4 linked regions of the Homo sapiens genome follow. The protein of the gene in region 4 interacts with the protein of the main gene of each other region in a pairwise test. Each region holds a gene or a part of one and is shown on either strand. Other genes may lie near its edges. The genes, in order: LDLRAD1, VMA21, SLC7A8 and NINJ2.

Region 1 (7,000 bases), on a different chromosome or scaffold from region 4:
GGTGCAGTGAACTAGATTGCACCATTGCACTGCAGCCTGGGCAACAGAGCCAGACCCTATCTCTAAAATATAAAAAATAATAATTAAAAAAAGCAATAATAATAGCTCATACTCAACACTTACTCTGTGCACATTAACTCAACAAATTCTAATCCTCTCAACAAAGTCTAAGGTAGCTATTATGGTACCCATTTTCCACATGAGGAAACTGAGGCACAGGGAAGTGAAGTGGCTTACTCAGTGTGGCCCAGGTAGGATGCGGTAGAGCTGGGATTCCAACCTGCATCCCAGCAGACTCCAGAATGGACAGTCAATTGGGATCGTGGAAAGGGCACGGGTTTTGGCATCAAACAGGTGTGGATTCACACGCCAGCTCCACCCAGGGTGACATGAATCTTTTCTTCCTGAGCCCTAGTTTCCTCATTGATAAAATAAAAGGTTGTTTTGAAAAATAAAGCACGCTTATGAAGGGCCTAATGGAGCTTCTGCCCCAAGGTGGGGGCTGGACATGCAGGCGTCCATCTCTCCCTGCGTCCTGAGGAAGTCTCCTGATGGCGGGTGGGAGGGGAGGGCTGTCCGCCTCTGCCATTCAGCCAGCTGTGGGCCCCTGGCCAGGGTGGCACCTAGTGGGGTGGGCCCACAGGCAGAACAAAGAGCATCAAGGAGGGCTTGGGAGCTGCTCCTCCAGGGAAGCCATCCCTGCTCTGCTCACCCTCGTGGGGGAGAGGCTGCTTGCAGCGGGCAGGGCGGAGAGGGAGCTCCCTGTTCCTAGCGCTGGCCCCCTATCACCACCACCCCCGGGCTTGTTTCCCCCCCACACAGCAGGCGGCGGCCACCTCTGCTGCTCACGTCGCGGGGCCTGCCTCTCTGCCTCTCTGCTGCTCCTCCTGGCAACTGTGGCGGCCCTCATCGCCTTGGTCACCATTCTTGGACTCCCATCATGCACCCCAGGTCAGGGCGGCCAAGAGAGGGTGGGTCAGACCCGGCGGGGAGGGCATGGGAGGGCACAGAGAGATGAGGGAGCCCCGACCTGCCTGGCTTCTCCACCAGGTGACTTTGGACTAATTCCTTAAGGTGCATGCACAGACACACACAGACACCTGCACACACACTGACTATACCTGTTTCTGAGCCTCCATTTGCACATCTGTGACATGATTATTGAGAGGACCCAGCTCTGATGTCACCTCCTCCAGGATGCCTTCCTAGACCCCCAGGATGGGTTACGAGCCTCTTCTCAGCCCCCCAGTCCCTACACTTCCTCTTCCCCTGGCCTGGCCACCCCGGGGTGGTGCTATCCAACTGTGTGCCCATCTCCACCACAGGGGACCGGGTGACATCCCATACATGCCTGCAGCCCCAGCTTCAGGGGTGAACAACCCCAACACAGTGCCTGCCTTCAAGGAGCTAATAACTGTTCCGAGAGCCGTCTAGACGTGAATACACATTACAGCGGGGTCCCTGGGAGCCCTGAGAGTCTAGCCCCATTGAGGAGTCAGGGTAGGAACAATGGGTATTAGTAGTGGGGGGATGCCAGGAAAAGCATCCCAGGCACAGGGAACAGCATGTGTGGAGCCCTGAGGGGTGGGAGGAAGCAGGAAGAGAAGAAGAGACTGCAAGAGGCCAGTGCACAGGAAGGGCTGGAGTGACAAGTGGGGCCCAGTGCCAAGGGCCTCACAGGCTGCACCGAGAAGGGAGGTCATAGTCCAGGAGCCACAGAAAGGGGATTAAGTTGGGGGCAAGTTGGGGGCAGGCTGATGTTTCTGAAGGATGGCTCTGCAGCCAGGCAGGGTGGGTATAGAGGGCTGAGGTGGGGGCGGGGGCTGAGATTCGCAGCGCTCCCCCTGCCCTGCAGGAACACAGACCCTGAGGTGGATGAATACATGAGCAGCTGCAGTCAAGAGCCTGTGTGCACATCTGTGTGTTTAGCGTGTCTATGAGTGTACGCAGCTGTGTATGCATGTTCATGTCTGTGTGTCAGTGCGTGTGTGCACATCTGTTGTCTGTGTATCTGTGAGTGTGCACATAGGTGCAGCAGTGTGTGTGTGAGCATGTGTTCATGTGTGTGTGCATCTGTGTGTGTCTGTGTCAACATGAGTGTCTCTGAGAGTTGCTCCCCCCCGCCGCCTCCCCCACACACACTAGCTGAGGCAGCCCAGGGACTGAGAGGTGGTTCACGCATGCACAAACACAAATGCACAAACTGGCTCCCATCCCCAATTATGCACACGTATACACATGTGGGGCCAAGGGGTTCCTCCTACCTTGTCCGTAGGTTTCTGCCTTTTAATTCTTTGGGGCAGCCCTAGGAGTGGGTATTCCTTTTCTCCTCCCATATGGGGGGCTAATGATGACGTGTCGCAGGGGTGTTTGGGGAACTATAGAATAAAGATATGAAAGTGCTTTGCAGTTGTGCCCAGATAGAAGGAATTATGACATATGGCCCTCCAGCCAGCCCAAATATATTGCTTCTGACACTCTAACCTGGTACCAGGAGCTCCACCATTAAAACCACTTCACTGAATTGAACATTGTCCTCAGAAGCTTCCCATGACACTGTAAATAAGTTTTCAATACAAGAGAGAACCATTACTAGTTCTGCACATTTTCTGTTCTATGTTTCTTCACAGAGATGCTTTCATTTAATCCCCACAACAGTCCCACGGGGTGTGTGCTATGATTCCCATGTTGCAAACAACCTGAGACTCAGGGTGGTCAGGTCATCTGCCCAAGATCAGGCAGCCGGCAGCGGGTACAGCTGGGGCTTGAACCCCATTGATGGCGCTGGGTCCATCCTCCCCACTGCCCCAGCCCCTCAGGCCAGCTCTAGGCGGAGTTCAGGTGAGGAAGGTTTGTCCTTGTGAGCACCACCCTTGACCCTCCAGGGCCTTTCCCTGCCCATTCAGGAGCCCAAGCTTGTATAACACTGACAAACAGGACAGGCTTCTTGTGCCATGACCAGAGGAGCTGCATTCCAGCCAGTGGGGTCTGTGATGGCGTTCGCACCTGTACCCACGGCGAGGACGAGGATGAGAGCTTGTGCCGTGAGTACCCGCTCGGTGCTGCCCCTCCCAGGGGTTCCCCCACACTCCGATGCTCTTGGCATCCATACTGAACACATCAGGCACCTTCAAGTCCCCATGGCTTTGATGCTCCAGTGCCTTCATCCAGGAACACCTGCCCCGACCTGGTCCCAGTCAGGGACACACATACATGCCCCCACTAAGGAATGCCTTCACCCTGTGCGTCTCCACTCCCAGAGAACCCGTATTCATCCCTCAAGGCAGAGTTCAAATGTTACCTCCTCCAGGAAGCCTTCCCTGACTCCCACACTAGGTTAAAGTGTCTCCTTTGGGCTTCCACAGTCCCTGTGATTCCCTGTGTCCCAGCCCTTGTCACACTGGTTGTCGCTCTTGATTGGCACATCTGCCACCCCCATCAGACTGTGAACTCCTCTGAGGCAGGCCCAGTCCGCTTGATATCGGGGCCCCAGTGCCTAGCACAGAGGGGTATTCAGAACGGCTTGCTGAATGAATGAGCGAATGAATGAATGGGAAGACCTGGCCCCAGACCTTAGACACACCTGAAGGTTCTCAGGAGAGAGGAGCCTGACCCCACAGGAGAGAGAGAGCCTGGAGAGGTGCAGTGGGTGGGGTGGGGGAGCTCATGGAGGGAGAGTCATTGCATCACAGACCCTCAGGACAAGAAGCAATCTCAAAAGCATCTAGTCCTTGCCCCAGCTCATCCCCAATCCCCTCTCTAGCAAGCCCAACCGAGGCCACCCAGCCTCTGCTTGCATCCCAGGGGATGCAAGGATTGGAAGGTTTTTCCATGGGAAGGTTTTCCTTGTCCCAGGCTTAGAGCTGCCTCCCAGAGTGGTTCCTCCCTGATTGGTTCCAACTCTGTCCTTCTGTCAACCCTGCCCCGATAGACCACACTTTAATTTCTGCCATGATGGTGGTGCTGCATGGATTTGAAGATTGCTCCCTTGCCCTCCATGAGGTTTCTCTTCTCTACGCCACATCCCCTTCTCCAGGTCACAGTCAGCCCCCTTGTGACCCAGTTCCTGGCCCTCCCCACTCCATCAATGCTCCACAGAATGAATATCAACTTCCCATGTCCCCGTCCCTGGACAGGCCTCAGAAACATCCTCAGCCCTTCTAGCTGGGTCTGGGCAGTCTAACGAACAGAATCTTGCTCCCTCCCTGCCCAAGGTTTTCTACCTCTAGTGATGTGGCCTGAGTTTGTGTGAATTTTTGATAGCCCTATCACACTGCTGCCTAACAGAACACACTTTCAAGAAAGGTGCTCTGACTCTGCCTTACAAGGTGTGTGAACCCTAGATCTTCCCCTGAGATCCGGGGCCCAACTGTAAGACTCCACATTTATTCCTGTGATGTTCCAGTTGGAAGAGGCTTCCTGGAGGTGATGGAACTTGAACCTGAACTTGAAAGAATGGTTTTGGATAGGTGTCAAGGAGGCTCTTTGTGGAGGGGGGCATAGTGTCAGCAGTGGTGTGGGGCAGGAACACACCAGAGCTGGGGAGGAACTGAGGAAGGGAGGGGCAGATCTCTGGGCCTCTGTCCAGCAACGGAGCTCTCCTCTCCCTCTGACTCCACCACCTCCCCAGGAAACCTTCTGCTTGCACCCTTCTGGGCTGGATGGGCACTGATCCTGAGTTTGGCCACTGCCAGGGTGGTCAATCCTCCTCCCGATAACCCTCAGACAGCTGTGGCCAGATGTGGACTTCTTCCTGCCTCCTCTGTACCTCTACAGGAGATGTGCCCCAGAGCCTCCCCCACTTCCTTGTGGCCCACTGTGGAGACCCGGCCTCCTGGATCTACTCAGACCAAAAATGTGATGGCACTAACAACTGCGGGGACTGTTCAGATGAACTGAGCCCAGGTAGGGGTCTGGGCACAGGCTGGGCTGGGGCTGGTGTCCAGGCAGCAGCCAGAGGGCAAAGGGTGAGCAGGGAATCTCTAGGGCTCCCCCTTGCATGCTTCCCTGCATCCTAGGAAGGAGTTTTCTACCCCTGCTTGAATACATCCTGTGATGGGGTACTCACTACCACTCCAAGTGACTTTTTCTGGAGGCTCATTCTTCTGCAGTGGGGAAGTCACCTTCAAAGGCACAGATGAGAAAACTGGGTCCCAGAAGGTGGTCATGCAAGGAGTACATACATGGCCCAGCTGGGATTTGAACCTGGGGTTCCCTTATCTCTGCACCTCCCAGTGACCCTGTGAGGAAAGCAGGGCAGGAATCACTGGCCCCAATTTGTATGTAAGTAAATGGAGGCTTTGAGAGGAGAAACTTAGTACAATGTGTGACAGGAAGGGAGCTCAGGTGTGAACCCAGGCCTCCTGATCCAAGTCCCGAGTCCTGTAGCTGCCCTAGAGTTTCCTCTCAATCTCTTCCCCAGTGGTCAATCAACAAACATGTTCTGAGCATTGGTGGGGTGCTCAGAACGCACCTGGTATCAGATTCAGGTGGGGGACATCAGGAATCAGGCATGTGTCCTACCCCCAGGACTCACATCATGCTGATGCCGAAAGGAGGTGCTGGGGACCTGGAGGAATCAAGGGAGATTTCTCAGAAGAGGTAGCATTCAAGAAGACCAAGAATAGACGGGTTTCAGTAGGTAGAGGCTGGGTGTGTGGGGAGGAATGCCGGAGGCCTGAGCAGAGGAGAGAAGGCTAGGAGCACCCTCAGGCAGTCATGGCAGGTGAGCATAGCTGGACTCAGGGTAAGGAAGGGCACCCATTCATATTGCAGTCTTTACCGTGTGCCTGGGACTTTGCCTGACATCCTTTGCTTGATAACAAGCTTGAGCACACTAGGAAACAGTTTCAGACAGGGTGAGGGAGGTCACATAGCCTGTGAGCTGTGGAGTCTAGATTCTCTCTGCCGCAGGAAAACTAGGAACACACTCAACTCACGTCAGATGGGTTGGGGCCATGGGGAGCTACGGCAGGTTTCAGAACTAGGGAGTGCCCTGGTGCACAGAGCGTTCCAGGACACAGCAACTGCTCTCCTGCTGGCTCTTGTCTCTGCAGTAACTGTGTGCCCACCCTGCGGCCCTGGGTGGTGGCGCTGTCCTTCAACCTTCTTCAAGTACTGCGACTGTATACCGAGGCATCTCTGCCGCGACCATGTACAGCACTGCTCCGACTGGTCCGATGAGTATGCCTGTCCCGGACCCTGAGTGGGCCACTCAGGCCAGCATGGAAGGCTGGCTGGAATGGCACTGATAACCCTTCACATGAAAATCAAATCCTAGCGCACAAGGGCAGGAAGCAGCCTTTGAAATGGGATCTACACATCATTTCTGAATAGGAATTTTCTCTCCTCCTTTCAAGTTGTTCAGCCTCTGCTTGAATGCTTCCAATGACCAGGAGCTCATTACCATGTTAGGTGGCTTCTAACAAAGATGATGTGGTGGAACCCCGTCTCTACCAAAAATACAAAAATTAGCCAGGCATGGCGGTGCACACCTATAGTCCCAGCTACTAGGGAGGCTGAGGTGGGAGGACTGTGTGAACCCAGGAGGTCAAGGCTGCAGTGAGCTGTGACCACACCACTGCACTCCAGCCTGAGCAACACAGTGAGACCCTGTCTCAAAAAAAAAATGAAACAAAACACAAACACAAACAAAGACGAAGGGAATCTGCTTCCATGATTTCATGCCTGTCTCTGGGGCCACACAGAGGAAATCTGCTAACTGCTCCAAGGCATACTTGTGGATCCTAATCTCGTCATCCCTTAGAGTGATGACATGTCTGGGGCTTAAATGACAAGCCGAGTTTAGCCTTCATGGATGGCACATACGTGAAACATATGCCACTTCCTACCCCTTTGGTACCTAAGGCAGATATACTGGGCTTGGATGCAACTTTAGCATCTTCCCCAGTTTAGTTAACCCAGCAGGCTCTACTGATTTAACCAAGTGACACAGCACATGAAACAGGATATCTGGCATCCTACCAGTGGGAAGCCACCC
Region 2 (7,030 bases), on a different chromosome or scaffold from region 4:
CTCCCACCCCCACCGCCATGGTAACTACTGTTTTATTCTCTGTCCCTGTGTAGTTGACCGTTGACCTTTTTTTTTTTTTTTTAAAGATTCCACATATAAGTGAGCTCATGTAGTATTCGTCTTTCTGCGTTTGGCTTATTTTACTTAACATGTCTTCCAGGTCCATCCATGTTGTGGCAAATGGCAGATGTCCTCTTTTAAGGCTGAATAAAATATTCCCTTGTATATATACACTACGGTTTCTTTATTTTGTCTGTCTACATACACGTAGGTTGTTTTCAAATCTTGGCTATTGTGAATAATGCTGCAATGAACATGGAAGTGCAGATATTTTTACGAGGTAGTGATTTCATCTCCTTTGCTTATATTCCAGAAGAGAGATTGCTGGGCTGTGTGGTAGTTCTATTTTTAATTTCTTTAGGAACTGTTTTCCATAATGGCTGTACCAGTCTACATTTCCAGTCACAATGTAGTAGGGTTTCTTTTTCTCCACACTTTTACAAACATTTGTTATCACTTGCCTTTTTGATAATAGCTGTCCTTAGAAGTGTGAGGTTATATCTCATAGTGGTTTTGATTTGCATTTCCCTGATGATTTAGTGATGTTGAGCACATTTTCATTTATCTCTTGGCCATTTTTATGTCTTTGGAGAAATGTCTGTCCAGCTGTTGTCCATATTTTAATCAGGTGGTTTTTCTGCTGAGTTGTAAGAGTTCTTTATAAATTTTGGGGTATTAACCCCTTACAAGATAGGTGGTTCGCAAATATGTTTTCCTAGTCTGTAAGCTGCCTTTTCATTTTGTTGATTGTTTCCTTTGCAGTACAGAAGCTTTTTAGTTTGATGCAAGCCGCTTTATTTTTTCTTTTGTAGCCTGAGCTTTTGGTGTGATATCCAAAAAATCATTACTGAGGCCAATGTTAAGGACCTTTCCCTCTGTGTTCTTTTATGTCTTAAAACTTTATATCTTTATGTTTTAGTTATTTTATCCATTTTGGGTTGATTTTTGTTTATGGTGTAAGAGTCCAGTTTTTTTCTTTGCATGTAGAAATCCTGTTTTCCCAGTACCACTTATTGAAGGGACTGTCCTTTCCCCATTGTGTTCCTCTTAACACCCCTGTCGAAGATTAGTTGGCCATATATGTTTGGATTTATTTCTGGGCTCTATTCTGTTTCATTGTTATATGTTTCTGTTTTTATGCCAATACCATATTGTTTTGATTACTATAACTGTAATATTTTAAATCAGAAAGTGTGATGCTTACAACTTTTTCAATGTTGCTTTGGCTATTTGGGGCTTTTTGTGGTTCTGTATGATGAATTTTAGGATTGTTTTTCTATTTTAATGAAGAATGCTACTGTAATTTTGATAGAGATTGTGTTATATCTGTATGTTGCTTTGGGTGCTGTAGACATTTCAACAGTATTAATTCTTCCAATCCATGAACACAGGATATCTTTACATTTATTTGTGTCATCTTCAATTTCTTTCATCAGTGTTTTATACTTTTCAGTGTACAAGTCACTCATCGCCTTGGTTAAATTTATTCCTAAGTTTCTTTTTTTTTGAAATAGAGTCTTGCTCTGTCACCCAGGCCAGAGTAAAGTGCCCCAATCACTGCTCACTGCAGCCTTGACCTCTGGGGCTCAAACAATCCTCCCACTTCAGCCTCTTGAGTAGCTGAGATTACAGGCACGTGCCACCATGCCCAGCGAATTATCAAAATTTTTTTTTGTAGAGGTGGGGTTTTGCTGTGTTACCTAGGCTTGCGTCAAACTCCCGGCCTCAAGCCTCAGCCTTCCCAAAGTGCTGGGATTACAGGCATGAGCCACTGAGCCTGGCCCCTAAGTATTTTTTTTTAATGCTATTATAAATGAGATTGTTTTCTTGATTTCTTTTTCAGCTCAGTAAAGGATGCGGAAGTTTGTCAAGTGCTTTTTCTGCATCAACTGAGATGATCCTACTTGGTCATAATATATAATCTTTTTGATGTATTGGTTTTGTTTGTTTGTGACAGAGTCTTGCTCTGTTGCCCAGACTGGAGTGTGATTTTGGCTCATTGCAACCTCTGCCTCCCAGGATCAAGGGATTCTTGTGCCTTGGCCTCCCAAGTAGCTGGGACTATAGGCACACGCCACCACTCTCAGCTAATTTTTGTATTTTTAGTAGAGACTGGGTTTTGCCATGTTGGCCAGGCTGATCTCGAACTCCTGGCCTCAAGTGATCCGCCTGCCTCGGCCTCCCAAAGTGCTGGGATTACAGGTGTGAGCCACCACACCTGGCCTGATTATTGTTGAATTTGGTTTGAAAATATGTTATTGAGGAATTTTGCACCAGTGTTCATCAGTGATGTTGTCCTGTAGTTTTCTTGCTGTGTCTGTCTGGCTTAGGTATCAAGGTGATTGGAGCCTCTTAAAACGTGTTTGGAAGTATTCCCTCTAGCTCGATTTTTCACCCATAACAGAAGTTCCTATTCCAGCTGGGGAGGGCGCACTGGTCCGTTCGCCCTGCCTACCTCCTTCAGTGGTCTGGTGTCTGGTGCTGGTGGTCAGGGTTGCTGCACGGGCTCAGGGACTGGTGTGGCAGTGGCTTCCCTGGGCCAAAGCTCTGATCCCAGTGGGGGAGGGCACGCTGGTGCGTCGGCTCCACCTGGTTAGTTTGCTGGTCCACTGTCTGGTGCTGGAGGACAGGAGGCTGGCAGCTTTCCCAGATGCAAGCTCCGATTCCAGCGGGAGAGGGCACACTGCTCCACCTGTGGTGCCTGCCGAGTTCCCTGGTCTGGTGTCCGGTGCTGGTGGTCAGGGTTGCTGCGTGGGCTCAGGGACCAGTGTGACAGTGGCTTCCCTGGGCAAAAGCTCTGATTCCAGTGTGGGAGGGTGCACAGGTGTGTCTGCCTCGTTAGTTCCCTGGTCCACTGTCTCATGCTGGAGGACAGCAAGCTGGTCGCTTCCCGTGACGGAAGCTCTGATTCCAGCAAAAGAGGGCGCGCTGATCCACCCATGGTGCCTGCTGCGTTCCCAGCTCTGGTGTCTGGTGCTGGTGGACACGGTTGCCGCATGGGTTGGGCACTGGTGCCGCTGTCCGCCGTGGCTTCCCTGGGTAAAAGCTCCAGTTCCAGAGGCAGGGGCACTGAGTTTCTTCACTTAGTTTGTTCACCCAGCTTGTTGGCAGTTGATCTGAGGTGCCCTGACGCTTCGTCTTACACTGGATATGAATGACAGTCCCTAAAGGTGGTGTATAATCTTCATGTTCCAGCTCAAGAAATTCCCACTACCCACAGCTGGTTCTCTAGGATCTTCGGATTACGAGTCCCTGCCTGTGATCTTCCTCCTGCATAGCATCTCATTTGTGGATGTTTATAGTTTCAGGGACATAAGAGCGTTTGGATATGACTGTGCAGGTTCTGATTTTCTCTTTGTTTACTTTATTCCAGAAATGAAAGCTCATTAGCATCTACACTGAAGACGCTCCTGTTCTTCACAGCTTTAATGATCACTGTTCCTATTGGGTTATATTTCACAACTAAATCTTACATATTTGAAGGTAATCTTAGACCCATTAAAACAAGATGTTTTCCCCCAATTTAAGATTCTGTGCTTTTATGACCTCTTTATATCTTTAAACTGGGTATTCTTATTTTTTTCTTGTTTAGCTTTTCAAAAAATCATATTGCTCATAATGAGTCTTTATGAAATAACTTATTGTTTCAGCTTGACAGTTTTCCTATGGTTTTCTGTGAAATAGCTTGCAAATCCTTTCTCTTAGTACCTTTTAAAGAATAGGGGTTGGCTGACATGGGAGGAGGAATTTTGGGGGAATGGACTTTAGTGTCAGATAACGGAAGGAAGAGAGAATGAAGTCCCCTTTTTGATGTTGAAATTTTTTTTTTTTTTTTGAGACAGTTTCACTCTTGTTGCACAGGCTGGAGTGCAATGGCGCGATCTCGGCTCACCGCAACCCCCGCCTCCCATGTTCAAGCGATTCTCCTGTCTCAGCCTCCTGAGTATCTGGGATTACAGGCACCCGCCACTACACCCGACTGATTTTTGGTATTTTTAGTAGAGACGGGGTTTCGCCATGTTGGCCAGGCTGGTCTCGAACTCGTGACCTCAGGTGATCCACCCGCCTCGGCCTCCCAGAGTGCTGGGATTACAAGCGTGAGCCACCGCACCCGGCCTGAAGTCTTTATAATTATGGTTTTGTTTAAAACAATGTTTGTTTGTTTGTTTGTTTGTTTTTGAGACGGAGTCTCGCTCAGTCACCCAGGCTGGAGTGCAGTGGTGCGATCTCGGCTCGCGTCAAGCTCTGCCTCCCAGGTTCACGCCATTCTGCTGCCTCAGCCTCCCGAGTAGCTGGGACTACAGGCGCCTGCCACTACGCCTGGCTAATTTTTTTTGTATTTTTAGTAGAGACGGGGTTTCACGGTGCTAGCCAGGATGGTTTCCATCTCCTGACCTCGTGATCTGCCCGTCTTGGCCTCCCAAAGTGCTGGGATTACAGGCGTGAGCCACTGCACCCGGCCAACATAATGTTCTTAATATATAGAAGGTACTCATATCTTTTAGTGAATACTTTATTCATTACCACCCAAAATATTACTTTTTAATTGCCTGACTAGTTAAATAAATACATCATAAAAATTAGGATGCTTTGTTTTTTTTTTTTGTACTTTGGTAAATTTTGCAATAAAATGGAAACTGTTTTTTTTCTCTTGATAGGCGCCCTTGGGATGTCCAATAGGGACAGCTATTTTTACGCTGCTATTGTTGCAGTGGTCGCCGTCCATGTGGTGCTGGCCCTCTTTGTGTATGTGGCCTGGAATGAAGGCTCACGACAGTGGCGTGAAGGCAAACAGGATTAAAGTGAACATCACCTTTTTATAGCATTAAATTCATTTTTTAAAATGATAAATGCTGGAGGGGGCCATCTGATTTGAATAAAGTTGAAAGAACATGTTAAAGTCAGTCTTAAGGAGTCACGTTTGAGTATGTAAATTTTGATCTTTCTAATATGTTGGTTTGTATATTCAGTTTTAACTGTATGAATCTGATTTGCAAATGAGAATTTGGAAAAGTTAGTTACAAAGAAATATGTTAATTTAATTAGACAATACTCTGGAAGGAATTTTATCTTCTTTCAACAAAACATGTTTTATAGTATTCTGACTTACGGTTGCTTTTGAGTTTTACTCATTTGGATATATTAAGATGCACACAGTGAAGCAAATTAAACTCCACTTTACGCTGGAATGCTTTCTTTAGCATGAAAATACCAGGTCCTTGGATTTGGGATTTTAATTTCCTATGGAAAGTTGCTTAAATTGTGGACACTGGAATTAATCTGAATGTCACTGAGGAATTTCACATGAAGTGTAATCCCTAGTCAATAAGAATTATCCATTACATTATTTTATGGGAAAACTAGGCTAAATTACATCCATTCAGGTAAAAGGACCTTAGCTTACTGAAGGATCTAAAGAGCAAAGCAAAGATCTCACTACTCAAACACTCAGCCTGCTTCCTTCAAGTCCCCTTGCAGGCCAGCTTTGTGCTTTGCAGACCAACTTTTTAATGAGATACTTTGCTTCCTCATTCAACATTGAAGCTAGGCTTCAATTAAAAGGTTCGAGGAAGCTCCATTTAAAATTGTTTTTTTTACTATTTTTTAAAATTGTAGTGTATATGATAGGAATTTGCATTTAAATATGTTCATTTTTGCATATGTTAGGAGTGGAAACAATCTGGAAAACATTTTTTTTTCATCCAAAAAGTATTCTCCTTGGGCATATCTGATGGAAAAAAACCTTGATTTTATTTTCGTATCTTTAGTCTGTGTTCTTTCTAGTTATTTGGTACTAATTATGTGCAATCTAAAAACACTCCCACAAGTATTTGTTTTTTAATTATAAAATCATAGTATATGTTCTTTGTAGAAAACTGGAAAAATACATATTCAAACAGGAAAAAAAATCAAAATTCCCCATAATGTTGCCATCTAAAAATAACCTCTATTTTAGTTGATATCCCGTATTCATTTTTGAAAGCCATTCCTTAATGCTAGTTTGATACACACTAAAAGTTTAGCTTACAAGTTCAAATTCTGCCAGCTTTTCCTGACAGCTATTTGCATTTTTTTCAGATGAGTGATTATTGGCCATTTTCTTTTTCTTTTTCTTTATTTTATTTATTTATTTTTTTGAGACAGAGTTTTGCTCTGTTGCCCAGGCTGGAGTGCAGTGGTGCAATCTCGGCTCACTGCAACCTCTGCCTCCTGGGTTCAAGTGATTCTCCACCTCAGCCTCCCAAGTAGCTGGGACTACGGATGCCTGCCACCACGCCTGGCTAATTTTTTTTTGTATTTTTTTGTAGAGACGGGGTTTCACCATGTTGTCCAGGCTAATCTTGAACTTGTGACCTCAGGTGATCCACCCGCCTCGGCCTCCGAAAGTGCTGGGATTACAGGCGTGAGCTACCACGCCCGGCCTTATTGACCATTTTCTAAATAAGCACATTCTATCTTTATTCTCTTAAAATTCAAATTTTCTGTTACTGATAATCCTAATACTAGGATTCTTGCTTAAGTATGTGAAACCATTACCGATTTGTTGTTCACATTTATTTTTTATGTTGTGAAACTGGACTAAAGGAATAGAGGGATGATTAGTCATAAAAGTCAAATAGCATTTGTGTTTAACTGTTGAGAAAAGTGAAAGATCAGTATGATTATTATGGAACTGTTTTTAATTCTTGCTTAAAGACTACAATTTTAGTATAATGACATTTGAGTCTAGGGTAGTATGTGGTAGATTTCTAGATGGTCCCTAATTAAGAAGTATTGTTGTATTTAGAATTGTCCACCTAATTTCTTTTTATATAATGCCAAGGTATTTCTTGTGCTTTTGGGATCTTATGCTGTTTGTAAAATGTTACTGTCCAATGTTGGATTATTGTTTTGGTTTCAGGCATTTGCTGAATAGGTGATGATACATGGGTATTTTTCTGCAAGTATTTAAACCAGGGGCATATGCAAA
Region 3 (7,600 bases), on a different chromosome or scaffold from region 4:
GTGGACAAATCAGTAGTAACATATACCCACAGAAATTGTACTTATTATACCTGAACACTCCCATTTCTTCATAATCTTAGAAAAAGATGTTAAAGGAAGAGACAAAAACATCAGTATATAGGAAAATACCCTCTACCCTTGAATACCTGAACCTGGAGATCGAGACCATCCTGGTTAACACGGTGAAACCCCGTCTCTACTAAAAATACAAAAAAAATTAGCAGGGCGTGGTGGTGGGCGCCTGTAGTCCCAGCTACTCGGGAGGCTGAGGCAGGAGAATGGCGTGAACCCGGGAGGCGGAGCTTGCAGTGAGCCGAGATCGCGCCACTGCACTCCAGCCTGGGCCACAGAGCGAGACTCCGTCTGAACAAAAAAAAAGAATACCTGAACCTATATTGGGAAGGGCGAGCCAGGCTGAGGCAGGAAGGATGTTTAATTGTGCTTGTGTGCCTGTGGGCGTGCGCATCTGTGTATAAGTCAGAACCTTCCTAGAGGGGGAAAATGCTTAATTCTGTCAGTCAAATTGGTGAACGGGCTATTTATAGACCTTAAACTGGCATGTGCTATACATACTGAATACTTGGCTGTTCTCATTTCTTTTGAACAATTGAGATAAAGTAAAGGAGAGGCAAAAAAAATGTCATGAGAAAAAGTAAAGAGAGATTCAGATCATGACTACAATTTTTCTTATAACATTATCTTTCTTATAACTGTAGATGGCCTGGAAAACTTCCCAGAGTCAGGGAATCACATAAAATAGGATTCCAGGGTGTAGGAGGAGTTGGTGGGGGTGGGGGGGGGATGGGATTTCATTTTAGAGACTGAAGAGAGCTTGGTCACTGAAGTTCTGGGTGTAGAGGTGAAGAGGATTATCTGAATACTGCACTGATTTTATTTGATTTCAAGAGTGCTCTCCAGTGTCACTATTGCTCAGATGCCAAAATATCTCTGAGCTATTGCATAGAACATGGCGTCAGCCAGAGAAACTGGTTCAGGGGCACCAGGACACAACGAGCTCTCATAAAGGAACTCTGGAGAGATGACAAAGAAGCATATCTATGCCTGACCGTCCTGCACTCCTTTTTCTGGGAAGAAAGTAAAGCCCCCTACCAAAGATAGCAGAACAATCTCTCACTCTGAAGTGAGGGCAGGAATAGTGAGCTATTGCCTGCCATCCATCTCCAAGGCTTCTCTGGAAAGAGGATGTGCTGTCTAGAGACGAAGCTGTATTTGGGACTCCTGCCCTGCAAAGTACATTCAGGGGGTTTGAGTGGCCTGCACTGGCACTCTTGGGGCCACCCAGGTTCCCCACCTTCAGCACCTCCCAGCTAGGACACATATTTTACCCATCAGTTCCTCCTCAACTCCATATTCTACACATTCTAGTTACTCCTGATTCCCTCTGAGAGCTTCACCGGGTCCTCCGTGGCTGTTAAGAAACAGGTGGACCCCACCAGGCAACTGGAGAAACTGCAAACTCTCCACTTACCGAGAGGCACAATCTGTCCCCTCTTTTCTTCCATAACTTCCCCATCTGTGAAATGGGAATAACAGCCCTGTCACAGCTACTTCACACAGTAAAAGTGCTGCATAAGGTGGAAAACGCTAAAATAAAAAGGCAGGGCATTGCTCTTGCTATTTTTAATACCTATCCCATAGTTTCATTTAACATAAAACTGCAAAATAGCTACCAAATATACCTTAAAAGCCCATCCCCAGCCTGGGAATAATAGCTGCATACAAACTTGTTCAGGTCCCTCAGTCCCTCCTTAAACCTATTGAACTAGAACCTCCAAGTGTCGAGACCAGGACCTGTATTTTTAAGGAGTTCCCAGGCAATGCTAATCATCAGCCGGGTTTCTGACCACGATTTGCTCCATTCTATGAACACTGGGCAGAATCTTTGCCTGGTTTGGAGGAAGAGATGTATGATGTATTTCCTATGCCTCTCAAACTTGACCAGTGGAGGTGAGTTACAGCTCAGGTGACTGACAATCCTTTTCTAAGGAATAGGAAGAACAATAATGCTTTCGAAGGGTTAAGATCTCACAGGAGGACCACCAGAGGGGAGAGGAGGGGTCCGCGGGAAGGAATGGAACTCACCTACGATGATACCACAGGCACTGACCAATCCGATCTCTTTCTTCAGGGCTACTCCGCCCCCTCCGGAACCAGCCTCGGGGCTGGCGTCCGACTCGCCCCCACCTGGGTGTTTCTTTTCGGTGTTGTTTCGGTGCCTGGCTCCTTCTTCCATCCTTCTCAGTAGGATTGCAACCTCAAAAGCTGCCTCCCTTTCTAAATGCGTATTCGTGTAAATATATTGGGAGAGAGCTTTGAATTAGAACGTCCTTTTCCGAAATAGGAACCACTGCTACTCTCTAAAAAAGGCAAGCAGATAAAAGAGAACACGAAAAATATTCCTACTCCGCATTCACACTTTCTGGTCACTCGCGTTTACAAACAAGAAAAGTGTTGCTAAAAAAAAAAAAAAAAAAAAAGGCCAGGGGAGACATACATTTAAATATAAAAATAGAACTGTGCCAGCGACTCCGGCTGGAATTCTGCTGAAAGGGATGTGTCTTCAGAAACCAGGATGGTTCTGCTCTGTGCACCAGGCAGTGGCTTATTCAGAAAGTGAGCCTGGATTTCCCTTCACCTCTCCCCCTAATAAAACAGGAGACTGCCTTTACCTCCCCTTAGTTTTTTCTTTTATGATGAAGACAAAAGTAGTTTTCATTAACGGTAGGAAAAAAGAGCAATCCTCAGGTACTTTCTTCTCTTCTAGAAAAACAAACTGTGAACCTGACGGTGTTGCTCTAGATCTGGTTTCCACCTGCTTTGGGTTTCTTTTCCCTTCCCCGTCTTCTGCTTCCGCCTTTCCCAGGTGTCCTCTTCTTTCTCGCTGGTCTTCGTGCCCTTGTTTTCCTCTTTTCGATCCCCGTTCTACTGCACAGCCGGCCCCATCCCTCTGGTTTCGGGAGAGTGGCTTCTCCACACACTAACGTGCTTCTCTTTAGCGAGGGGTTTTATTCGCCCGCCGAGGCTCCGCCCCTGCCTCCTCTGCTCCCCTCCATCCTCAGTCCCGTCTCCTCCCTCCTCTGCAATTTAAGTATTAGCACAAAGCCCCCAAACAGCACTGAGAAAATGGACTAAGTTATTTCTTTTTGCAATCGTCTCTCGCTTTCTCCATCTTTCTCCTTGCAACCAAGTGGAAGTAAACTCCTTCCACGTCAACTGTTCCGGGAGAGCTCATTAGCTAGTATAATGTTACAGGTCATACAGCATCTGTGAGCTTTATAAATCAGGGAACAGTTGTGCCGATACTTTTAATGCCATCAGAAATAAACTAGCCAATGTATTAAAAAATATTTAGGACTGGATCCTGTATTTGAGAATACAGGAGAGAACGTTGAAAGGACATCATCTTCGAGTTTCCTAAAAATAGGGGGAATCGACGGGTGGGGGAGGGAAATGGAAGGAATTAACAATGGGAAAAAGGTTCTTTTAGCGTAATTGTGAGCTACGAAGAGTACAGAGGAAACAAAATCGCCAGGCGCGGTGGCTCACGCCTGTAATCCCAGCGCTTTGGGAGGCTGACAGGGGAGGATCACGTGAGCCCAGGAGTCTGAGACCAGCCTGTGCAACAGAGCGAGACCCCGTCTACTAAAAATTTTAAAATTAGCCGGGTGCAGTGGTGCAGGCCTGTAGTCTTAGCTACTCAGGAGGCTGAGGCTGGAGGATTGCTTGAGCTCAGGAGGTCAAGGCTGCAGTGAGCTATGATGACGCCACTGCACTCCAGCCTGGGAGGTAGAGCAAGACCCTGTCTCAAAAACAAAACAAAACAAAAAGCCAGAAAAACCACATGCACATACAAAAAGATAAAAAACAAAATCACCAGGTAGCCTTGTTGTTCACAGCTCTTATTTAGGACTGGCTGAAACATGAAAAAAAATGACTCAAACCCTGATCCTGCAACTTCTAATATTTTTGCATTTATAAACTATTTGAAAAGCACACATGGGGAATTATCAGTATATCGCTGATCATGAAACATACTTGTTGATGTTAGAATAACTAGCTTATTACCATATCGAAATGATGCCTCCACTTTCTTGAAGAATTTCACTCAGAAACTGCTGCCTTAAGGTGAGAGCAACAATGTCTATTTATAATTGTAAATTATTTCGAAAAAACAGCATGAAGCAATATAGTGGACAACACTATAAGTCTAAAATAAAGTTATTTTTAGCCTTATTAAATATATTATGCAAAATTATTTAATTTTAAAGTGGGCCTAAAAAATTAAGTTCCCCCAAACTGACCCCTAACTACAAAAATTTGGCCTCACTTTCTGGAAAATGTTCCAAAAGATTTTGGGTTTTAAGGAAAATAAATACTTAATTCCTTAAAATGAGGTTTGTTGAGCTATCATAGCAAAAGCTTTTTCAAATGGGGTAAAGTCCAATCAGCAGTCATCTGCCCCCTTGATCACTCAGCAAGTATTAAGAGGTTTCAAAGGTTGGGAGGAACTTCCTCTCCTCCTTTTGCTAGTTCAAGACACAGCAAATTGAAAGACTCAGCAAAAAAAAAACAACAAACAACAACAAAAAAAACCAGACAAGGCAGGGAATATATAGCACGAAACTCCATGGGAGGGAATGAGTCATGGGAAATGAAAAAATGTCGAATTTGCCTCTAGCCTTTCCTGACAACCTTAGAAAGCACTGAGGAAAAATTTGATAGATTCATTTGTATACATTCAGATTTGAAGACTTCTGCTCCGATTTCAACATCACCATATAAAACAAATAATGTTTCTGCTTCTTAAACGTGAGTTCTTTCAGTAATATTTGGTAGTTCTAATTTATATGATGCAGACTTAATGTGGGATAAAACATGAATGTGATGAATTTGAGGTCTCTTGCTAAAACCAGTGCAAACTGATAACGATATGGTAAGCTTTAGCCCTCTCAAATTATGAACTAAGAAGCTAAGGGGGTTATGGGATCAAATACGTTCTTGGAATACAGCGGTACTAGGTGCACACGTTGGAAAGGAAGAGTTGCTGAAGATTAGTATTTCTATTTCTTTAGCACTTGGAATTTATAAGTGGCTTATTACCATTGATTACTGGTGCGATGTAATATCTAGGAAAGGGGCTGGGCACGGTGGCTCATGCCTGTAATTCCAGCACTTTGGGAGGCCGAAGCAGGTGGAGTGCTTGAACTCAGGAGTTCAAGACCAGACTGGGCAATGTGGTGAAACCCCATCTCTACAAAAAATACAAAAATTAGCTGGGTGTGGTGGCTCACGCCTGTAATCCCAGCTACTCAGGAGGCTGAGGTGGGAGGATCGTGTGAGCCATGGAGGTTGAGGCTGCAATGAGCCAAGATCGCACCACTGCACTCCAGCCTGGGTGGCAAAGTGAGACCCTGTCTTTAAAAAAACCAAACCAAAACAAACAAACAAACAAAGCTAGGAAAGGAATCTCCCCACTTTCAAAGGGAGCATTATTTATATTAAGTGCCTCTCTGTAGGTTGGAATCTTTTTGTGACATAAACTCTTAAGTGTGTCAAAATTCCAGGTGACTAACATTGAACACAAGAGAGAAAGAAAAGCCTTGGTGTAATATGTTGACAAAAATCTGTAAAAAATTACAAACTAATGTTTATTAAATTTTGAGCATTTTTTTTTTTTTTGAGAAGGAGTCTCGCTCTGCTGCTCTGGCCGGACTGCAGTGGTGCGATCTCGGCTCTCGGCTCACTGCAACCTCTGGCTCCTAGGTTCAAGTGATTCTCCTGCCTCAGCCTCCTAAGTAGCTGGGATTACAGGCACCTGCCACCATGCCTGGCTAATTTTTGTGTTTTTAGTAGAGACGGGGTTTCACCCTGTTGGTTAGGCTCGTCTTGAACTCCTAACCTTGTGATCCACCCGCCTCGGCCTCCCAAAGTGCTGGGATTACTCTATTCTGCATTTGCCTTTATATTTTTATTCTATTCTCTACGTTTAAATAGTGCTTTATAGCCCACAAATGGTTTTCTGAACAATATCTCAATTTTTTTCCTCCTCATGTAGTATCTTGGGCAGACGAGGCAGTTATCTTAAAGATTTTAAAAATTAGAAACCTGAGGCTTAAAGAAATATTTTACCTGAGGTAAAAAACAAGACAGTCTATTTGAGGGCAAATGGGAGATTGATAGTTTACACTGAGCACTTTTTCAGGATGCTATAGCTACTGGTCAAAGCCTCAATTTCTTTCACCTGAGGGAAACTCTGTGTTTTTGCTTTGGTGTCTTAACTGTGCCTTTTAGAGACTCACCTTGATCCTAACACTTATCTGCTCAGTGAGACCCACAGGACTTCACCTGGGCCCCCCCAACATTTGTCACCCCCTTCGCACAGTCCTCAGTGTGGCCATATCCCAAGTACGTAGTACAATTCTGTTTCCAATATCGGAGCCACTGTTTCAGCTGTTTTGCGTGCTTCAGATCAGAAGAAATTGATCCCTTTAACTAGGGAAAATTATGGATGAAAGGCCGTTTTCTTACAAATATGGATTTAGAAAGAGAAAGGCTGTGCGTAGCTGACACCTACTGGACAGAAAAGGTTATGGCTTGGGACATGCTGCTTGTGATAGTTAAAACACAAACACACACAACCCCCACGCAGTCATGTTCTAATATTCCCCTACTCCCCCCTTTTTTAGAGACAAGGTCTCACTCTGTCACCCAGGCTGGAGTGTAGTGGCACAATCACAGCTCACAGCAGCCTCAAACTCCTGGGCTCAAGTGATCCTCCCGCCTCAGCCTCCCGAGTAGCTGGGACTACAGATGTGCGCCACCACACCCGGGTTAATATTCCCTTTCAGAGACAAGTTAGACGTGTCTGCTAATGCAAAGGAATAGAGCACAAAGCTCATGCACTCCATTCCTGATTTTTTTTTCTAGATCCAATAGACAGCACTTTATTCTTGCTTTTTGTAACAGAGCTGGGAAGTCTGAGGTTACCAACAAAGGACCCAAATCTCTCCCTGGAGTCAACTCACAGTCCATGCGCTCACTCCATCCTTCTTCTCGTAACTATGTGCCCCATATCTATGTGCTTTAGTTTAAAGCAGAAGGAAACCCTGCTTTAAATTAAAGCCAACTTTCTTCCCAGAGTCCCAGGGATCACTGCCTATGGTCGATTAGATGGGGCCTTCCTGAGCCAGTAGTTTTAGATGCCTTTACTTCATTAGAAAATGAAAAGCAGATGAAAATTAATGAGAAAAGAAGAAAAAATTAAAAAAAGAAAAGGCCAAAATAGGTCAGAAAGAAAGGAAGATGAAATGAGGAGACTCGGTCAGTGATTAAGCCCTTTTTAGTGTATGCTCTGTTTGCCTTTTGGGCATATTCATAAGTTCAAAGGAAGTTGTGTCTTCTAGGGTTTATGCAGTCCTGAGAATTTGGATGCAGCTGACCCTGCTTTGTTATGATGGTTAATTAATTCAGCTCTTCTGGAGATAATGATGAATCCTTGCTCTGACACCAGAGACAAAAATTCCAACAGATTACTCCTCTGTCTGCTGCACTTGGTGGGATTCCATGGAGCCAGCCCAGC
Region 4 (7,681 bases):
CCAGGTTCAAGCAACTCTCCTGCCTCAGCCTCCTGAGTAGCTGGGACTACAGGCGTACACCACCACGCCTAGCTAATTTTTGTATTTTTAGTAGAGACAGGGTTTCACTATGTTGGCCAGGATGGTCTGCAACCCCTGACCTCGTGATCCGCCCACCTCAGACTCCCAAAGTGCTGGGGTTACAGGCGTGAGCCACCTAGCCCGGCCCTGTTATGCTCTTTCTAATGAATACTGAAACTATAAAGATGGCCAGCTATGGTGGCTCACACCTGTAATCCCAGCACTTTGGGAGGCCGAGGCTTGTGGATCATTTGAGGTCAGGAGTGCAAGACTAGCCTGGCCAATATGATGAAACCCTGTCTCTACTAAAAATATGAAAATTAGCCAAGTGTGGTGGTACATGCCTATAATCCCAGCTACTTGGGAAGCTGAGGCAGGAGAATCACTTGAACCCAGGAGGCGGAGGTTGCAGTGAGCTGAGATTTTGCCACTACACTCCACCCTAGGCGACAGAGTGAGACTCCATCTCAAAAAAAACTGTAAAAATAAACATTATAATAAAAAGCTGTCAGCCATTGATGTACCTTTACCACCCATTGGTGATAATTGTACCACATTTTGGGGAAACATTGTTTTAACTAAAGAGTGTTATTGTTTTGTTTTTAGAGATAGGGTCTGGCTCTGCCGCCCAGGCTGGAGTGCAATGGCATGATTGTAGCTCACTGCAACCTTGAACTCCTGGCTTCAAACAATCCTCCCACCTCAGCCTCCCGAGTAGTGGGGACTACAGGTGCATGCCACCATGCCTAGCTAATTACTTTTAAATTTTTAATAGAGATAGGGTCTTGCTATGTTGCCCAGGCTGATCTCTAGCTCTTGAGCTCAAGTGATCCTCCTGCCTCAGCCTCCAAAATGCTAGGATTACAGGCGTAGGCCACCGTGCCCAGCCAAAGGTGGACAATAAATTGTAGAAAATAATGGATAACCTTCTGAGCAAAGGAAAATGTAAGATACAAGAATTAAATAGCATATTAGAAGAGAGTGAATGACAAATGAAGAGAAAGGTACACTAACACCTCAGTTACCTGCTAGAGAGAGACATTCATCCAGCCTAGCCAGTCATTTCCTTCTCCTTCCTCCCACCACCTCTTTCCTTCTGAACCTCTGGTTCAGATGCAGAGTCCTTAGCCTGTAACTCTGGATCGTTCAACCCATCAGCACATAAGAAACTTGCTCTTCTGAGAATGAAAATAAGCAGCAACACAATTTCCTTAACAACCAAGGATCTTATAGAGGCAAGAACTAGAAGTAAGAAGAAAACACATACTAGGGACAGAAGACATGGACTGGAGGTCTTGGGCCAATTAGGTGACCTTATTCCTATCTCAGAGCCTCTCCAACTCATGGCTTCCTCAACTCATTCATTTAACAAATGTTTTCTAAAGCAATGACCGTGTACCAAGAGTTGCCTCATGCACTCGGGCTGCAGCAGTGAATAAAACAGGAGAGGCCCTGCCCTCAGAGATCTTGTGTCCTAGTGAGAGTGACAGGCAATACATACTAAATAAATAAGCAGTGTAACTTTAGGTGGTGAGCAGTGCTATGAAAGAAATTAAACAAATGATAAAGACAAATTGGGGAGGAGGCATCCTGTGAAGAGGTTGGTCAGGGGAGGGCTCCTGGGGGAAGTAACATTTGAGCTGAGACCTGAATGTACTAGGAAGGGCCAGCCAGGAGATAAGCCAGGGAAAGAAGGTTCCAGACAGAGGGACAAGCAAGCCTTGCGGTGGGACCGCTCTCGGGGCTGGCTGCCAATCCAGGAAAACAGCACTGGGTATGCAGTTGTACTAGGTGAATGGTTTTGACACAGCACACCAAGCAGTCCTACAGTTCCCTGGTGGTGTCTCAAGGGCGGAGGGGCCAAGGACAGAGACTCTGCCAGACTCACGCCACCCTGCCCAAAACACACACAGAGAACGAGAGAGAGAGAGAGAGAGAGAGACGCGTGCACATACTCTGCTTCAACAAAACAGCTCTTCTTTAATCCGAAGTGTATATTGGGTGGCTGCTTAAGATTTTGTTCGAGGACCAGGTTCAGGGATCAGAAATTCTTGATCTCAAAAGTCCTTTTCCACACTTTGTTTGATTCTCTGCAATGTTACACAGCCTCAGCAGTGGTCATAGAAGGGTTCGTTCTATTCTATCCATTGGCAAGGAGTCACAGAGTGCAGCTCCCAGCAATCTGGCTCTCCTCTCACCGTAACATCCCACCCTTTCCCCTCCAGCAGTGGACTGGAACCTCTGATGCCTTCCAAGCCCATCCCAGCTACAGAGGGACACACATCTCTGCCTCTTCCTAGGAGATTAGACTGATTTCCTTTCCTTGCACTGTCCAAATGAGACGCTTTCTGTCCTACACAGTAGAGCTTTGTGAAGACAGCCGAGAAACGGCTCAAGTTTTTTCCAACCTGTAAAATGCAAAGTTGGCCAGCTGCCTCTCTTCCTAGCCTCAAAACTCATATATTTCCTGTCTCCCCGGCAGCTCTAAGAGAAGTCTCTACTGTCCTGGGGTTTGGGGAAAGCACTGCTCAGAATGTGAAATCATTTTCTGGTAATACGGATCTAATTAGCTCTTTGACTGACAAGAGGAAGCAGAGGCCAAAAGGGAGTTAACCAATCTGTTTTTCAGATATTTCAAAACAAGTGAAGAACCAGATAGGGAAACAGAGAGAAAGAGAAAATAAAGAGACAAAGCCTAGGGAGCATTTGGAGAAGGGAGTGAGTAAGAAGAGAACGGGGAGGGAGAATATCAAGTGACTAAAGTATCAATCCTCTGTTCTTCCAGCTTCACCTCTACTCCCGGTCTCCCCTCTGCTCTCTTCCAGAGAGAACTTACTTGAAGGTCGATGTTTTCTCTTGCTGATTCCATCTCGCTGCCCTCAAGTCCCTTCACACGCACCGGGTGCCGGGAACAGACTGCGTGGGCTCCTCCAGGCTCCGCCGTCTGAGTCTCTGCTGCTTTCTTCGGGTGGGAGAGAGCACACAGCTGGCGGGACAGACCTGCCATTCATCCCTCTGATGTGGGATGCCCGTCTTGGCTGCAGCCTCTGGGGGAGGTGTGCACCTGCACACACGTGTGAGTGTATGTGTGTGCACATGTGTGTGCTCCAGGAGGTGGCACATGGCACACTGATAGGTGACCTTTTGAGTTGGTAGTGACAGCATCATTTTCACCAGTGGCTCCAGTGACCTTCCAGTCCCAGCGGAGCCATCTGAGGTCACCCAGCCTGCTTTGAGCTAGTAGCTTTATGACTGGCAAAGAAATCCTGCATGTTTATCAAGCAAATTGAAAAACAGCCTGAGGACAACGCTATCTGACTTCACCGCTGGGTCCAGTCCCCAGTCGCCACGGGTGGAGTGACCTCCAGCACAGTCTCAATACTGAGGCAGAGGGATTTCCGTTGTTCTTTGCTTTGTTCCCTATATCCCTAAAAGTTTTTAAAAAAATTGTAGTTTACCTAATAGGCTCCAAAGCATAGGCTTTGTTCTGCAAAGTGAGTGAACAATACGTTTTTACTGACGGATTGTTTGATTCCTTCAACTCCTCCCTTGATTAGCCATAGAGGGAGCAGGGAGTAGTTGTACCTTCGAAGCTTGTTTATGCAAACAGTGGTATTCTCCCTACTTTTAAAATAAAATTACCAGGAGGGAGTCTTTTTTTAGAAAGTTTTTTTTTTCCTCTCCTGTTTACCTTAGAGCCCAAAACTCTTCTGGCTTGTTCCTGAAGCAAGGTTTAGACACAAGCTTGTGCAGGTGTGGGTGTGGGTATGTCTGTAGACGTGCATGGCAGGGTGTTAACCTGTAATCCAATTCAGGGCTTGAAGAGGTGCGGGCAGGAGGAAGACAGGCAGAGTCAACACGTTTACCCTCACCACATTCAAATGTAAAAAAAAAAAAAGGCGATTTCTTCAGTTCTATGAAATGCCTTTATAAGTTCCCATCCCTCTGGACAGTGGTGCGAGGGAGGGTTGGATGATTGGATGGGGGCCATATTTTAGTCTAATCTATGAAGCATAGTTGGATTTAATCATTTAAATGGTAAACAGTCCACTTTAGACACAATGCTCAGTCTTTCGGATTTGCAGAAGATGGCACCTAGGTGCACAGGAGGGCGGGGTGGGGACGGTTCTTGCATCTATCCTGTGGCCTCTCCATCTCGGCTCCTTTCTGTTCTGGAGCTGCTGGGCCCACGGGCCCGCCCGAATTGCTGACTGCTGAGGAGACACAGGTCCTGCTCCTGGGTCTTCTGCTGGCCTTGGTGGCTGATGTCTGATATTAGGCCAGAGTCACTCATGGGTGATTCTCTTTCTGCCTTTGAGATCCAGTGTTCTCCCTTGCTGTCTGCGCTACCTTGGCTCGTGGCAATGTGGACCATCCTGAGACCTGGCTTTGACTTGTATGTGCCCCCATCCCACTGTATCCGCTCAGTGGCCCACATCTCTAAGATAAGCCCCTCGAAATTTTCCTGTGAGATGCTTGACCAGTGCTCCTGAGCCCCCTTAGGCACATGGGGACTGAGGGCTGCTGACGAAGGGCAGGGGAAAGGCAAGCTCAGCCCCACTTCCAGCAGAGTTTGCTCTGATGTGGCTGCTCCAACTGACACAGGGCAGTCTGCGAGGTGATCTCCTTCCACATTCCTGAATGGAAATGAGACCTGGAACCCACTCTTCTCAGCACTCCTTAAAAAGTCTACCAGTAATATCTATCACCCCACCGCTCATAATAATACCACTATGTATCAAGCACTATTCTAAGCACTTTTTTTTTTTTGAGATGGAGTCTCGCTCTGTTGCACAAGCTGGAGTGCAGTGGCGCCATCTCGGCTCACTGCAACTTCTGCCTCCTGGGTTCAAACGATTCTCCTGCCTCAGCCTCCCGAGTAGCTGAGATTACTTCTTCCCATAGTCCCCTTAATCTAGAATCAGAAAATGTACGCTTTGTCTTCTTTTTTTTTTTTTTTTTCCTGTTTGGCTGGGATGTATCTGATGTAGAACTCTATGACAACAATTCAAAGGGAAATGAAGAAATTTAGAAAATCCTCTCTCTCAAGAAAACCTGGTTGTCAAAAATATTGTCTTGGCTGGGCAGCATGGCTCATACCTGTGATCCCAGCACTTCGGGAGGCCAAAGCCGGAGGATCTCTTGAGCCCAGGAGTTCAAGACCAGCTTGAGCAACATAGTGAGATCCCATCTGTAGAAGAACTTTTTGGCTGGACATGGTGGCTCACACCTGTAATCCCAGCATTGTGGGAAGTAGAGGCAGGAGGTCACTTGAGCCCAGGGGTTCAAGACCAGCCTGGGAAACACAGTGAGATCCTGTCTCTACAAAAAAAAAATTTTTTTTTAATTTAGCTAGATGTGGCAGCTTGCAGCACCTGTAGTCCCAGGTACTTGGGAGGCTGAGGTGGGAGGATTGCTTGAGCCTGGGAGCTGAAGGCTGCAGTGAGCTATGATCATGACACTGTACTCCAGCCTGAGTTGACAAAGCAAGACCATGTCTTAAAAAAAAAAAAAAACTTTCTGGAAAACCTTATTTCGGATGCCAGAAGCAAAATATTAACTATTTATTTCTCTTTGCACTCCTGTTGTGAAAATCCTCATTATCTTTTAAATAATATGGATACATCTGGCTGAATAGAGGGAAACAGGAACAAAAAAATGCAAAAGAGAAAAGTACTCGAATATATTTCAAAAAATTTCCTATTAATAAGCACATTGGTTTGAAAAGGAAACAGCTGTAATTGGTTATAATAATGGTTTTGGTTTGGCAAGATCTTTCTGGATTTGGACCTTTCCCCATCTCATAAGCATCATTTGGAAGTAAACAGAAAAAAGGCTTTGGAAAATGGTTTATCTACCATATCACGCTGTAACCCTGGACCAGGGGTCAGCAAAGTTTTTCTTTTTCATTTTTCCCTTTTATAAAATTCAAATTGCTATATGAAGCTTTTTTAATTTTAATTTTAATTTTTTGAGACGGGGTCTCACTCTGTCACCCAGGCTGGTGTGCAGTGGCACAGTCTCTGCTCACTGCAATCTCTGCCTCCTGGGCTTAAGTGATCCTCCCACCTCAGGCCCCAACCCCCAGCCCAGTAGCTGGGATTACAGGCGCGTGCCACCATGCCTGGCTAATTTCTGTATTTTTTGTAGAGACGGGGGTTTCGCCATGTTGCCCAGGCTGGCCTCAAACTCCTGAGCTCAAGCGATCCGCTCACCTCGATCTCTCAAAGTGCTGGAATTACAGGCGTGGGTCACCATGCCCAGCCAGTAAACTTTTTCTGTAAGGGGCCAGAGAGCCAATATTTTTTAGCCTTTGTGTGTCATATGGTTTCTGCTGCGATGACTCACTTCTATAATAATGTGAAAGCAGTCATAGACAACATGTAAATGAACGAGTGTGGGAGTGTTCCAATAAAACTTTATTTACAAAAAGAGTCAGATATTCATAAAAACAGACCGGAGTTGGCTCCACAGGCTATAGTCTGCTGACCCCTGCTCTAGGATTTAATCAGAGTCTTTGAAGTCTAATTCCCACTTGAGAGGCAACTACTGAGTCTCTACCACGTGGATATTGGGTTAAACACTGCGGGGATATAAAAGCACCACATGCACGCCCTGGTGAGACAACTGATGGCAAGGGAAGCTGTAGTGAAGAGTGTTGCTGCCATTTGGCTGGTGCTGAAACTGCACCTACGTGGAGGTTATCACTGTGGGTGGAAATGGTTTCTATTGTTCTTTACTGCTAGGGTGATTTTTGTGGTGTAAAGCCAGAGGGACATTTTTAGGGAGACTGTCTCTTGGAAAGCATATTTTGGAATATCCTTGAACTTACAGATAAGTAGACACTCAGAGTGACTCAGAAACTACTCTGAGTCTAGTTTCATGGAATGAGGGGTCTACAATGAGACCCTAGGTATCTTGCTATGTAGAAGGAGCAAAGCATTGTTGTAGGGTACTGAAGAAGGCAACAGCAAGAAGATCCTTTAATTTTGAATTGTGGGAAAAGCTCTAGGGTGAAAGCCAGGTGGCCTGGATTCCTCTCTGTGTGCTGAGTCACTGTGTTTTTAGGCAAGTCACTTAACTTCTCTGGGGCTTACATTCTTGTTTGTGAATGTGAAGCTATCAAAAGAGTTGATTCCTAAGATCCCTCTAGCTCTTAAATTCTGTTTCTAATGTGTGTTTTGGCCAGGTGTCGTGGCTCACACCTGTAATCCAGCACCGAGGTAGGCAGATCACCTGAGGTCAGGAGTTTGAGACCAGCCTGGACAACATGGTGTAACCCCTCTCTACTAAAAATACAAAAATTAGCTGGGCCTGGTGGTGCATGCCGGTAATCCCAGCTATTTGGGAGGCTGAGGCACAAAAGAATGGCGTGAACCCAGGAGGTGGAGGTTGCAATGAGCCGAGACCACAACACTGCGCTCCAGCCTGGGTGACAGAGTGAGACTCTGTCTCAAAAAAAAAAAAAAAAAAAAAAAGTTTATATTAAATACTTCCTGTGTAACAATATAAAATCTCAGATACAGGTCTGAATTTCAGTGTGTAAAAGTTGAGGGCTAGAAATTATTGGCTTTTTAAAAAATTGAAGCAGAGCAAGAAGAATCTAATGCTTTTAGTTTAA

The links.
Region 1: the proteins of NINJ2 (region 4) and LDLRAD1 interact in binary tests that used the Homo sapiens proteins (3 or more experiments, as listed by UniProt).
Region 2: the proteins of NINJ2 (region 4) and VMA21 interact in binary tests that used the Homo sapiens proteins (3 or more experiments, as listed by UniProt).
Region 3: the proteins of NINJ2 (region 4) and SLC7A8 interact in binary tests that used the Homo sapiens proteins (3 or more experiments, as listed by UniProt).

The regions. Positions count from the first base shown.
Region 1 is NC_000001.11:54,008,187-54,015,186, reverse strand, and holds part of LDLRAD1 (low-density lipoprotein receptor class A domain-containing protein 1), read left to right. Parts: intron 1-822; coding exon 823-951; intron 952-2,906; coding exon 2,907-3,044; intron 3,045-4,776; coding exon 4,777-4,905; intron 4,906-6,056; coding exon 6,057-6,205; 3' UTR 6,206-7,000.
Region 2 is NC_000023.11:151,400,198-151,407,227, forward strand, and holds part of VMA21 (vacuolar ATPase assembly integral membrane protein VMA21), read left to right. Parts: intron 1-3,433; coding exon 3,434-3,543; intron 3,544-4,718; coding exon 4,719-4,861; 3' UTR 4,862-7,030. UniProt on the Homo sapiens protein: Required for the assembly of the V0 complex of the vacuolar ATPase (V-ATPase) in the endoplasmic reticulum.
Region 3 is NC_000014.9:23,180,661-23,188,260, forward strand, and holds the start of SLC7A8 (large neutral amino acids transporter small subunit 2), read right to left. Parts: upstream 3,001-7,600; 5' UTR 2,255-3,000; coding exon 2,104-2,254; intron 1-2,103. UniProt on the Homo sapiens protein: Associates with SLC3A2 to form a functional heterodimeric complex that translocates small and large neutral amino acids with broad specificity and a stoichiometry of 1:1.
Region 4 is NC_000012.12:660,432-668,112, forward strand, and holds the start of NINJ2 (ninjurin-2), read right to left. Parts: upstream 3,015-7,681; 5' UTR 2,930-3,014; coding exon 2,897-2,929; intron 1-2,896. UniProt on the Homo sapiens protein: Its role in unclear. In contrast to NINJ1 paralog, does not mediate plasma membrane rupture (cytolysis) downstream of necroptotic and pyroptotic programmed cell death.